Linked DNA regions of Homo sapiens. The protein of the gene in region 1 purifies or fractionates together with the protein of each later gene. This does not show direct contact. Each region holds a gene or a part of one and is shown on either strand. Other genes may lie near its edges.

Evidence for each region. The genes of interacting proteins can lie anywhere in the genome.
Region 2: the proteins of PCDHB13 (region 1) and SPSB4 purify together in Homo sapiens (co-immunoprecipitation; one large-scale study listed by IntAct). This does not show direct contact.

The regions. Positions count from the first base shown.
Region 1 is NC_000005.10:141,212,141-141,217,757, reverse strand, and holds the start of PCDHB13 (protocadherin beta-13 precursor), read right to left. Parts: upstream 3,840-5,617; 5' UTR 3,635-3,839; coding exon 1,238-3,634; 3' UTR 1-1,237. UniProt on the Homo sapiens protein: Potential calcium-dependent cell-adhesion protein. May be involved in the establishment and maintenance of specific neuronal connections in the brain.
Region 2 is NC_000003.12:141,057,293-141,062,364, reverse strand, and holds part of SPSB4 (SPRY domain-containing SOCS box protein 4), read right to left. Parts: intron 1-5,072. UniProt on the Homo sapiens protein: Substrate recognition component of a SCF-like ECS (Elongin BC-CUL2/5-SOCS-box protein) E3 ubiquitin-protein ligase complex which mediates the ubiquitination and subsequent proteasomal degradation of target proteins.

The sequences.
Region 1 (5,617 bases):
AAGTCATGGAAAATCTCCTCCTCCAACCTTGAAGTCTTTTTCTTACATAGTGTGTCAGATCCTTAAAGGTAAGAGTGATTTAACATGAGACAAAGCTACTCCCCTACAATGCTTTGAAAATTTTTTTAAAATTAGAACCCTAAGGGACTATCTTTTGATACTATCAATGTTCAACATCTGGTATGCTTTTATATGTCTGAGAAAAGTGGTTTTCAAACTTTGGGTTACTACCCACTAGTATACCATGAAATAAATTTAGTGGATCATGACCACATTTGAAAATTGAATAGAATGAAATATATAGGTAATTTCAAATTATGTCATAAAAAGACTAAGCATTGTTCACAAGCATTTATTTCTATTAAGCTTGTGTGTTTCAAAATATGTAAAATATAATCTTAACTATTGGTTGCAGTAAAAAAAGTTTGAAAAATAGTTTCTGGTGTATATACATTAAATTATATGATAGTACAGGCAAAAATTTTTACACATTAACACACAACTCCAATTTATGCTATATGAATTATTATTTGGGCACAGGCATCTGCATTCAACTAGATTGCACTAGAGCTTTGTGACATTAATTAAAAAATTATAGCTTCATATTCCCAGATTCTGTGATTGGTCACAATATTAATGTGCCTGCACAATCCTCTCCAGGATGAATGAGGAAAGGATACTAAAAAACTGGTCTTCTGACCCTTTCGAATCAAGTGATAACACTTAGAGTTGTATCATAGGATATAGGTTTTCTGGTTTATTTTTGAAAGCAAAAAGCATATTTAAAGGTTAACTAAAAACGCACTGGATTTACAAAAAAGAAAAATGATATGTCTGAATAGGAGTCATTATTTTAAGACTAAAAAAAGAGAATCAAATGAAGAAATGCTGGAAAATTGGAATCACTTCCAAATTGCTCTATTTAATTTTACCATAAGCATAATAGTGGGTGAAGTTCAGCTAAAGATAGGGGCATGAAAAAAATGTGATTTGGTATTGCTCTTTAGGGAGGCAAATTAATTACAAATTAAGACCATCTGGGTTAAAGAATGAATTGTCACCTTTTAAGAACCAGGAATAAAGGTAAATGTTCACTTTAAAACAAAGGGAGAAAGAACATGAGAAAAATCAAGAGTAAATCCGTACAATATTACATACACACAAATTGGGGGAAATAAACATTGGCATGGAAATGCCACAAAATAAAATACCTATGGAATGTAAAAGTCAACTATGGTCACTGAATATTGAACCCAAAGTTATTGGGGAAGGTAGAATTTCCTTGTATTTCTTTCCCAGGGCACTGGGGAGGGAAGTTGGGGATAATCGGCTTCAGGAACTTGAACTCATTGGTCCCTGAGCCTCCTGCCAGACACACCTCATACTGGTAGCTCTGGGATAGGGTCCTGGTGCCGCTCATGTCCACAAGATGCCCTGGAAGGGGGCCCTCGGGCACCAAGCAGCGACCCACCGAGGCCGCCCTGCTCCTCCTACACAGCCGCACCGCCACGAACAGGAGCACCGAAAAGAGGAAGAGCGAAGACACCGAGGCCAACGCCACCACCAGGTAGACGGTGAGCAAGTCGGCCTGGGCCTGGGTCGGGGCCGCCTCCGGGAGAGGCAGGTAGGGCTGGGAGAAGCCGTCCACCAGGAGCACGTGCAGCGTGGCGGTGGCCGAGCGCGGAGGCTCGCCATTGTCCTTGACCAGCACCACCAGCCTGTGCTTGGCCGCGTCGCGCTCGCTCAGCAGCCTGGCGGTGCGCACCTCGCCATTGTGCGCCCACACGCCGAACAGACCGAGCTCCGTGGCCTTGAGCAGCTGGTACGACAGCCAGGCGTTCTGGCCCGAGTCGCCGTCCACCGCCACCACCTTGGTCACCAGGTAGCCCGGCTCGGCCGCCCGGGGCACCAGCTCGGTGCAGGGCGCGGAGCCGTTCTGCAGCGGGTACAGCACGAAGGGCGAGTTGTCGTTGGCGTCCAGCACCACCACGCGCACCAGCGCCTCGCTGCTCAGCGCCGGGGAGCCGTGGTCTGAAGCGCCCACGCGGAACTGGAACCCCTGCAGGGCCTCGTAGTCCAGAGACCTGAGGGCGAACAGGTGGCCGTTGTCCGCGTTGATGGAGACCAGGGATGTGAGGGGCAGGTGCGGGTCCTGGGGCGGCAGCAGCGAGTAGGTGACCTGGGCGTTGGTGCCTGAGTCTCTGTCTGTAGCGCTGACGCTGCGGATGTGCAGGGCGGGGCTGTTGTTCTCGCGGACGAACAGGGTGTAGGAGGTTTGGGTGAAGGCGGGAGCGTTGTCATTGACATCGGCGATCAGCACGGTCATATTGAGCTGTGTTATCAGCATAGGGGTCCCCAAGTCAGTGACAGTGATAGTGATGTTGTATTCCGCTCTGCTTTCTCTGTCTAGTGGTCTCTCCGTTAGTAGGGTGTAAAAGTTTTCCGCGGATTTCAGGAGGAAGGGTAGATCCTCCTGAATGGAGCAACTAATTTTCCCATTTTCTCCTGAATCAAGATCTGAAACACTGAAAAGTGCAACCACAGTTTCAGGCGCGTTCTCAGGTATTGGGCTGGTAAATGCAGACATGGTAACTTCTGGGGCATGGTCGTTCACATCTATCACTTGAATCAGAACGGTGCATTTTCCAGAAAAGGTTCCAGCATCTCTTGCCTCAATATTGACTTCATAGGACTGAAGTTTTTCGAAATCGAGTTGTTTTTTTAGTTCAATTTCTCCTGTCAAGGGATTGATCTTAAAGGTTTTGCCAATCTCTTCTGAAGCTTGGAAAAGTGAATAGGAAATCTCTCCGTTGACTCCTGTGTCTACATCCGTGGCAGAGACCTTCACAACCAGGAAGCCTACCGGACTGTCCTCAGAGATCTGCACTCTATAGAAAGGCTGCTCAAATTCAGGGGCATTATCGTTGACATCCAGGACTTCGATGTAGACCTGAGCAGTGCCAGATCTGGGCGGAGAGCCACCATCCAGTGCTGTGAGTGTTAACCTGAGCTCAGCTTCTTCCTCTCGGTCCAGCGCTTTGTCCAGCACCAGCTCTGGGTATTTCCTGCCATCACTGCGTTTGCGGGTGAGGACCCGAAAATAGGAGTTGGGGCTGATTATATAGTTCTCAATATTGTTTTGGCCTACATCTAAGTCTTCGGCATTCTTCAGAGGAAACGTAGTCCCAGGAGGACTGCTCTCTGATACTTTCACCAACATTTGTTTGTCCAGAAATACTGGAGAGTGGTCGTTTATGTCTATTACTTGCAGCTCAGCTTGAAAAAACTCGAAGGGACTCTCTAGCAACACTTGGAAACGTAGCACACAGGGCTCTGTGTGACCGCACAGATCCTCACGGTCCAATTTCTCATTTAGCAACAAATCCGCGGTCTCCTGATTGAGCTGCAAATGTAGTTTGTTCCCTCTGGAAACAACCCTAACCCCCCGCCTGGAGAATTCCCTCTGCTCCAGACCCAGGTCCTTTGCTAAATTGGTGACAAAGGAGCTGCCCTCAGTTTCCTCCACCACAGAATAGCTTCTAGGTTCCGCCGCGCCCGCCAGAGATAAGCCCAAAAGGAGAAAGGAAAAAAGGACTTGCCTTTGTCTGCAAATGAGCTTCCCGCTGGCCTCCATTGTTCTTGCTGGATTCAGCTTCCTGGGAGGACGGTTCTGTGGGACTGTAAAGTCCCCAGTATCTGAGGCTGTGGTTATTCTACAGATACCTCAGAAATATGCCAGTGAGTAGTCCTCTCCAGAGGACCCAGCCGTCCTCCCTTTGGCATCCAAGCTCCCCGTGGACTTCCAGGTTCTGCTGCTTTTTGCCGGTTAATGGAGCTGCAGCTGCGGTTCTGGTTTGTGCCTTCTTATCCTGCAGCGCCACCACGCGTCCTCACAGGATCTTACATTTTGTGGAATGATAATGGATGTAATATTCCCAACTCTGCCTGTATGCACCCCGAGACTATGTAAGGTTACAACACCACCGTTAATATCGCCGGACTTTAGTGAGCAGACAACTGCCCAAAGGAGAAATCACATTAGTCTTTCAACAATGATAACTGAGTTTTGGGCAGAAAGGAAATATTTAGGTAATAGTCTAGCTTGGCAAAAAGAATTTCAAATATAATTGTAGTTATCATGGACAACATTTAGATCTTTATAGTTTTATTTCCATGAACCATAGGAATAATTAGTAGCTGTGAACCTCGAACAAATTATTTAATCTCTCTGCTTTAGTTTGCTCCTCTGTAAAGTGAGGATAAGAACAGTACCTACCACATAGGGCTGTTGTGAATTCCCCACCTTAAACATGAGGAATCTAATGCAAATAGATATTAACCTTAAAAATAAGGTATATACCAAGTATAAAGCAATTTGATGCCATCAAGTAACTGAGTCTTGATGGCATAAATCCATCATAAGTCTAGCATAAATCCATTACTATAACTAGATAAACACCTCGAAATTCAAATGGTAGAAGAATACAGGAGCATGACTATCTCAGGTAGAGAGGTTATGTCCAATAATGAAAGGAAATGAACAAGGAAAGGCTGGAGAGTTTGTCTAAATAGAGACAATATCTGTAACAGCAGTGGTGATTTTGTTTCTGGGAAGGATGTCCTTTTTTATTACCTCCACTTCTAACAGCATCAATTAAAAGACATTATTTTGAAATTTTTCAAATCTCATAAAAGAGAGGAGTATAATGATCCTCCAAGGACTCAGTACTAGCTTCAACTATTATCAATGTTTTGCCATAATTCTTGACTCTATCCCTTCAACATTTTCACATCCCAGACAAACTGAATTTTCTCCCACAAATACGTCATTATACATTTCTTTAAAAGCATCATGACTTTAAATGACTCTAAAAATATGCTTAAGTACAATGCCATTATCATACCTAAAAATCAAGTTAACATTATTTAATACCCATCTATATTCAAATTCTTCCAAGTTTTTCAAAGTCATTGCTGTTGTTTCAATCAAGATCCAAAAAAGATCCACACATTGTATTTGAGTGGTAGACCTCTTAAGATTTTTCCTTGTGTAAACTTCACTCCTCTTATTTTTTGAGCCATTTATTTGTCAGAGAAATTGGATAATTTTACCCTGAGACCATGAAAGCAATTTTAGATTTTACTACTGTGAGTTTTTGTCCTTAGATTCTATCCCACCAGTGATATGCAGTAATACTAGCTTTATTAGAGTTACTGGCACTAGTTTATAATATATTTAGAACACAACTATGCAAAAATTACCTATTTTAAATATAAGAATCGGTTATATATTTTTAACAAACAATGCTTCTCCTTAACTCCCCAAAATTTCTAAAAATTTAATGATCATCTATATTTCTCTTTGATATTACACATTTAAATCTATTCTTTTTCTTAAATTTTCCTGATTCAGCAGTGCAGTATAGGTAAGAAAAACTGCTAAAAACAAACTCTCAAATCAGGAAAATATATTACAAATGTAAGCATGGGTGACTCTGGAAATATACTACAATGTAAAGAAAATAATTAACTAATAATGCCATCAAAATTATGTACTATTCCTAATCAGGACCATTAATCTTTTCTGTGAAATGATAGTTATATGTTCAGGAGACAA
Region 2 (5,072 bases), on another chromosome or scaffold:
AATCATGTAATGTATCATATTATATTATGTTATATTATTATATTACTATTATATTAATCTATCATGTTGATAGTGTGTACCCTTGATATGATATAATGAAATCTTCCTTTGGGTGTCTTCCCCAAAACCCATAACCTCACTCTAATCATGAGAAAAACAAAGGACAAATTCCATCTGGAGGCCATCCCACAAAATACCTGACCTAACCGGCAAGGTCATCGGAACCAAAGTCTGAGAAACCATCATAGTGAAGAGGGCCCTAAGGAGACCTAACAATTCCACATAATGTGGTATCCTGGATGGGATCTGGAACAGAAAAAGGATATTAGGGGCTGGGCTTGGTGGCTCACACCTGTAATCCCAGAACTTTGGGAGGCCAAGGCAGGTGGATCATTTGAGGTCAAGAGTTCAAGACTAGCCTGGCCAACATGGTGAAATGCTGTCTCTACTAAAAAAATAAAATTAGCCAGGTGTGGCGGCACACGCCTGTAGTCCCAGCTACTTTGGAGGCTGAGGTGGGAGGACTGCTTTAACCCAGGAGGTGGAGGTTGCAGTAAGCCAAGATCGTGCCACTGCACTCCAGCTTGGGTGACAGAGGGAGACTCCATCTCAAAAAAAAAAAAAAAGAAAGAAAGAAAAGGAAAGAAAAAGAAAGAAAGAGAAGAAAAAGGATATTAGGTAAAAACTGAAATCTGAGAAAAAAAGGAAATCTGAAAAAATATGTTAATAACAATTATTAATATTAATTATTAAAATAAGTTAATAATAATGTATCAATACTGGTTCATTAGTTGTGATAAATGTGCCATACTAATGTAAGATGCTAATAATTGGGGAAACTAGGGTGATAAATGGAGTGAGCATATGGGACCTCTCTGTACTATCTGTTTAGTTTTTCTTTAAATCTAAAACTATTCTGAAGAAATAAAGCTCATTAATTAGAAAAGGTTAAATAAATGTCTAAATTTTAGAGAATACAAAAAAAGGACAAAAACTAGAATTCACCTCTTTCTCCTATCTCATTAACCAGATATAAACATTGTCAGCTTTTGGAGGAATTTTGCTTTATTCTCTCTTTTTTTTTGGTCTATAAATTATAATGAATTTTCTTTTTAAAAATTGGTATAATGGGCCTTTATTTAGATTATTTCACCTAAAAATTATGTAATTTGCATTTTCACATATCACTAAATATACTTTAAATGCATAAGTAACTAAATTTTTAAAAACACATAAAACATAAACCATATAATCATTTAATGGGGGAGAAGACAGAAATATGTAAAACAAGAAATGAAAATGGGAAATAACAAAACGGTGTAGCTGAAAGCACTTGTAAAAGAAGTTAGACTTGTTTTAACATAAGAAAAAATTTGCAACACAAATTACCAACAAATATATGTCAAACTCCTACAAATGAATACAAGTACAAAATATGAAAAGATATCAACAGTTTACACAAAAACAAATGGTTCCTTTGAAAAGATACTCAATGTATACTGAAAAAGAAATGAGTTAGAACTCCATTGAAATGCCATTTTTGTCTATCAGCTTATTAAAGGTCAAAAAAATGGATAACGCATGCTTGGAGAATGTGTGGAACAGAAGACAGACTCATACATTGCTAAAGTGGATATAAACTGGTTTAGCCTCGGCAAATGGCAAATTAACACCATCTTTCAGAATTGCAAATATACAGACCCTTTGACCTAGCAATTCTACTTCCAGCATTTATTCAGATATGTTCTCAAATGCACAAAACTACCTATGTACACAGCACATGCATACATACTGCATACATACGCAGCACTCTTTGCAATAGCAGCCCGGGCTCAGAGAGGTTGCATAACTTGCATAACCTGGGGTCACACAGCCAGGAAGTGGCAGGACTGGGATCAACCCCAGAGTTACCATATGACAAGCCTGTGCTCTTACTTCTTCCTCCATGTTGTTTAGAATAATGCCCTCTCCACAGCAATGACTGTAACCAGCTCTGTGTGGCCCACACAGAAAATTTCTAAGGGAAACTGCTTTATCCTTGCACACAACCATGCCAACTGTGGAGTTGCTGTTGCTGAAAAGACACTTAAACATGTTTGAAAGCAACAGCCAAACAGCAGCCCCAGGGAAGACCTCTTACTAGTACTTGGCTTGGCCCATACTGGGTCATTGAGGGCCCAGTGCTCTCCTTTGCAATCATAGTCTCAAAGTCTCTGTCCCTACTAGAGGCAGGCAGAGATCCTGAAGAGTGCTCACACTGTGGTGTGACAAGGTGGGCAAGTAAATAGACAGCCCCTTTGCTGCTCCCCCAGTACAGGGCGCACAGCAGAGTGCTCATGTCCATGAATGATAAGCCGTTAAGGGAAACTAGCAGCTGGGCAATCTAATGAAGGACAGGAGACCTAGATGTGAATCCCCACCTGTCTGTTGGACCCTAGGCCAGAACTTAATCTCTCTGAGACTGGTTGGAAGTGCTGCTAACTATGTGCTAACCTCACCTGCTTTTGCAAGTATCAGAGCAGACACCTGTAAAGTCTGGCACATCACAGGGCTTCCAGTAAGTGGTGAGTGCTCTTTTAAATTGTGGATGTGTTCCAACATTGCCATTTCACCACTTGAATGTGCCTGGCTATGAACTGATTGTGTCCTCCCCAAATTCACATGTTGAAGCCTAATATAGGTTGGATATTTGTCCCTGCTCAAATCTCATGTTGAGTTGTAATCCTCAGTGCTGGAGGTGAGGCCTGGTGGGAGCTGTCTGGGTCATGGGGGTGAGTCTGTCATGGCTTGGTGCTGTCTTAGGGATAGTGACTGAGTTCTGGAGAGATATCTGCTCATTTAAAAGTGTGTGACACCTCCCCACCCCCGCCTCTTGCTCTTGTTTTCACCATGTGACATGCCTTCTCCTCCTTCACCTTCTGCCATGACTGTAAGCTTCCTGAGGCCTCTCTAGAAGCCAAGCAGATGCCAGCACCGTGCTTCCTGTAAAGCCTGCAGAACCGTGAGCCAACTAAACTTCTTTTCATTATAAATTACTCAGTCTTAGGTATTTCTTTATAGCAATGCAAAAATGGCCTAACACAAAGCCCCAGTGTGATAGTATTTGGAGGTGGAGCCTTTGAGAGATAATTAGTCCATGAGGGTGAGCTCCACCTCCTCTAGGAAGCCTGCCCTGATCCAGTAGGCCTCCTGGGGCCTGCCCTGTACCTCTGTCCACCCTTGAGCCAGCCAGGGGGACATCTTTCAGGCCTTACTGATCTGCTTTTTTCTACCTTGAGGGCATTCCTCTGATGGCAGGAAACTTTCACCAGCACTTCTGTGCCCCCAGCCACTGCACTACTCCCTCCATGCAAGACACAAGCCTGGTACTTTGAACATGGGGCAGAACACACATATGGACTGTGGAGAGGTTGTGCTGGGCTTCAGGGAGGGCTCATGCTCTGCTGTTTTTCAGAGGATGAAGCAGAGAAAGGGCCAGGGCTAAAGTCAGGATATGGGGACATGAAGCCCAGTAATGCCACTATCATAGTTGGACTCTCACTCCTGAGCAGCTGACTCTTGGCTGTATCCAGTCTACTCCTTTATTAGCTACTGCTTTGCATCCTTCCCTGCTTCCAACCCTCATTTATTCGTTCAAAAAATGCTTAGTGAACACAGTGCCAGGCACTGTGCAGCTGAGAGCAAGGGACACAGCAGTGGCCAAGTCGGGCTCATCCCTGCCTTCTCTCTCCAGCCAGAGGGAGTGGGCACTTAGCACATTTCTCCTCTCCTCATCTCCACTACAGCATGCAGCACTGGGCCAGGCACATGGGACATACAACAGGATCCATCTTCCTGACAGGAATACCATCATCTCTCAACCCAGTAAGCAGCCAGCATCCTGAAGAACGCCAAAGGATGCCTCCGTCACTTTTCCCCAAAACCAAACTTAATTTCCTACGTCATGCTTGGATGGGGATGCTTAATGACATTATCCAGAAGGATCTGCTCTGGGGCTTCAATCATGGCTGAGCAAGAAAACAAAAACTCTAATTTGCTAATTGCCTTTCCCAGGACCCTAGCAGATGTTCCTACCCGACAGGGAAATGAGGAGACATGAAGTGGCAATGCCACACTGTTTAAGGAACCTCATTAGTTTGAAAAATATGATGCACAGTCTTCAGAGGCCTGGGACCCAAAATCACAGCCACAGAGGCCTGTCTAGCTGAGCTCAATAGGCACGGGGTCTGCAAGAAGACATGACTGCTGTGGGGATTGGTAGTGACTGCGTGAAATGCCCTTCTCTCTGTGTGGCCTCTGGCTTTGGACTTGCTGGAGCCAGAGGTGGGGGCAAGTCTCCTTCTTTCATCTAGCCAGCAGTAATGATGCCTGCCCTGGGGATCTCAGGCTGCTGAAAAGCATAAGACTCAACCACTTTCCCTTAGGGAGACAGCCTACACCAAAGGGGTCAGACTCCACGAGAGATCTGAATAATGACAAAGACTGTAAAAAGAAATCCAGTTAGATACCACTGGAATTCCTTTATAGACTGCATATTACTTTCAAATATATACTACTGCACTTGTAAAAGTACACAGTTGATCTAATCACGCTCCTGCTCAAAATCCTCGACAGGTTCTCTGAGGCTTTCAGGATATTAGATATTAGTGCCTCTGGGGAGCTCCCCAGCCCCCTGTGCTCTCAGAGCCCTTGTACTTGTGCCCACCACAGCTCTTATCACAAGGGGACATGATGTCTCTTTGGCTGCCTCCCTCCCATCGGACTGGGGCAACTTGGGAGCAGGGGCCGGGTGTCCCTCATCAGAGTCCCCATGGACCTGGCTTAGAGAAAGTGGTGGGTGAACGTCTATGGAATGCACGAGCACGAACAAATGAAGAAAAGCAATACACTGCCTTAGAAAGAACCAACACTTAAGAATGAACTGGGAATGCAGAGCACTGTGAGCTCAGACTATTTATTTCATGTCTTTATTTTTCAATTTTTGACTCTGTGCAAAGGTACCAATGATAGGTGCCTGACCTTAGTTTAACTGGAATGTTTTTAAGATTTTTCTTGTGCAAATATTAAGTAGG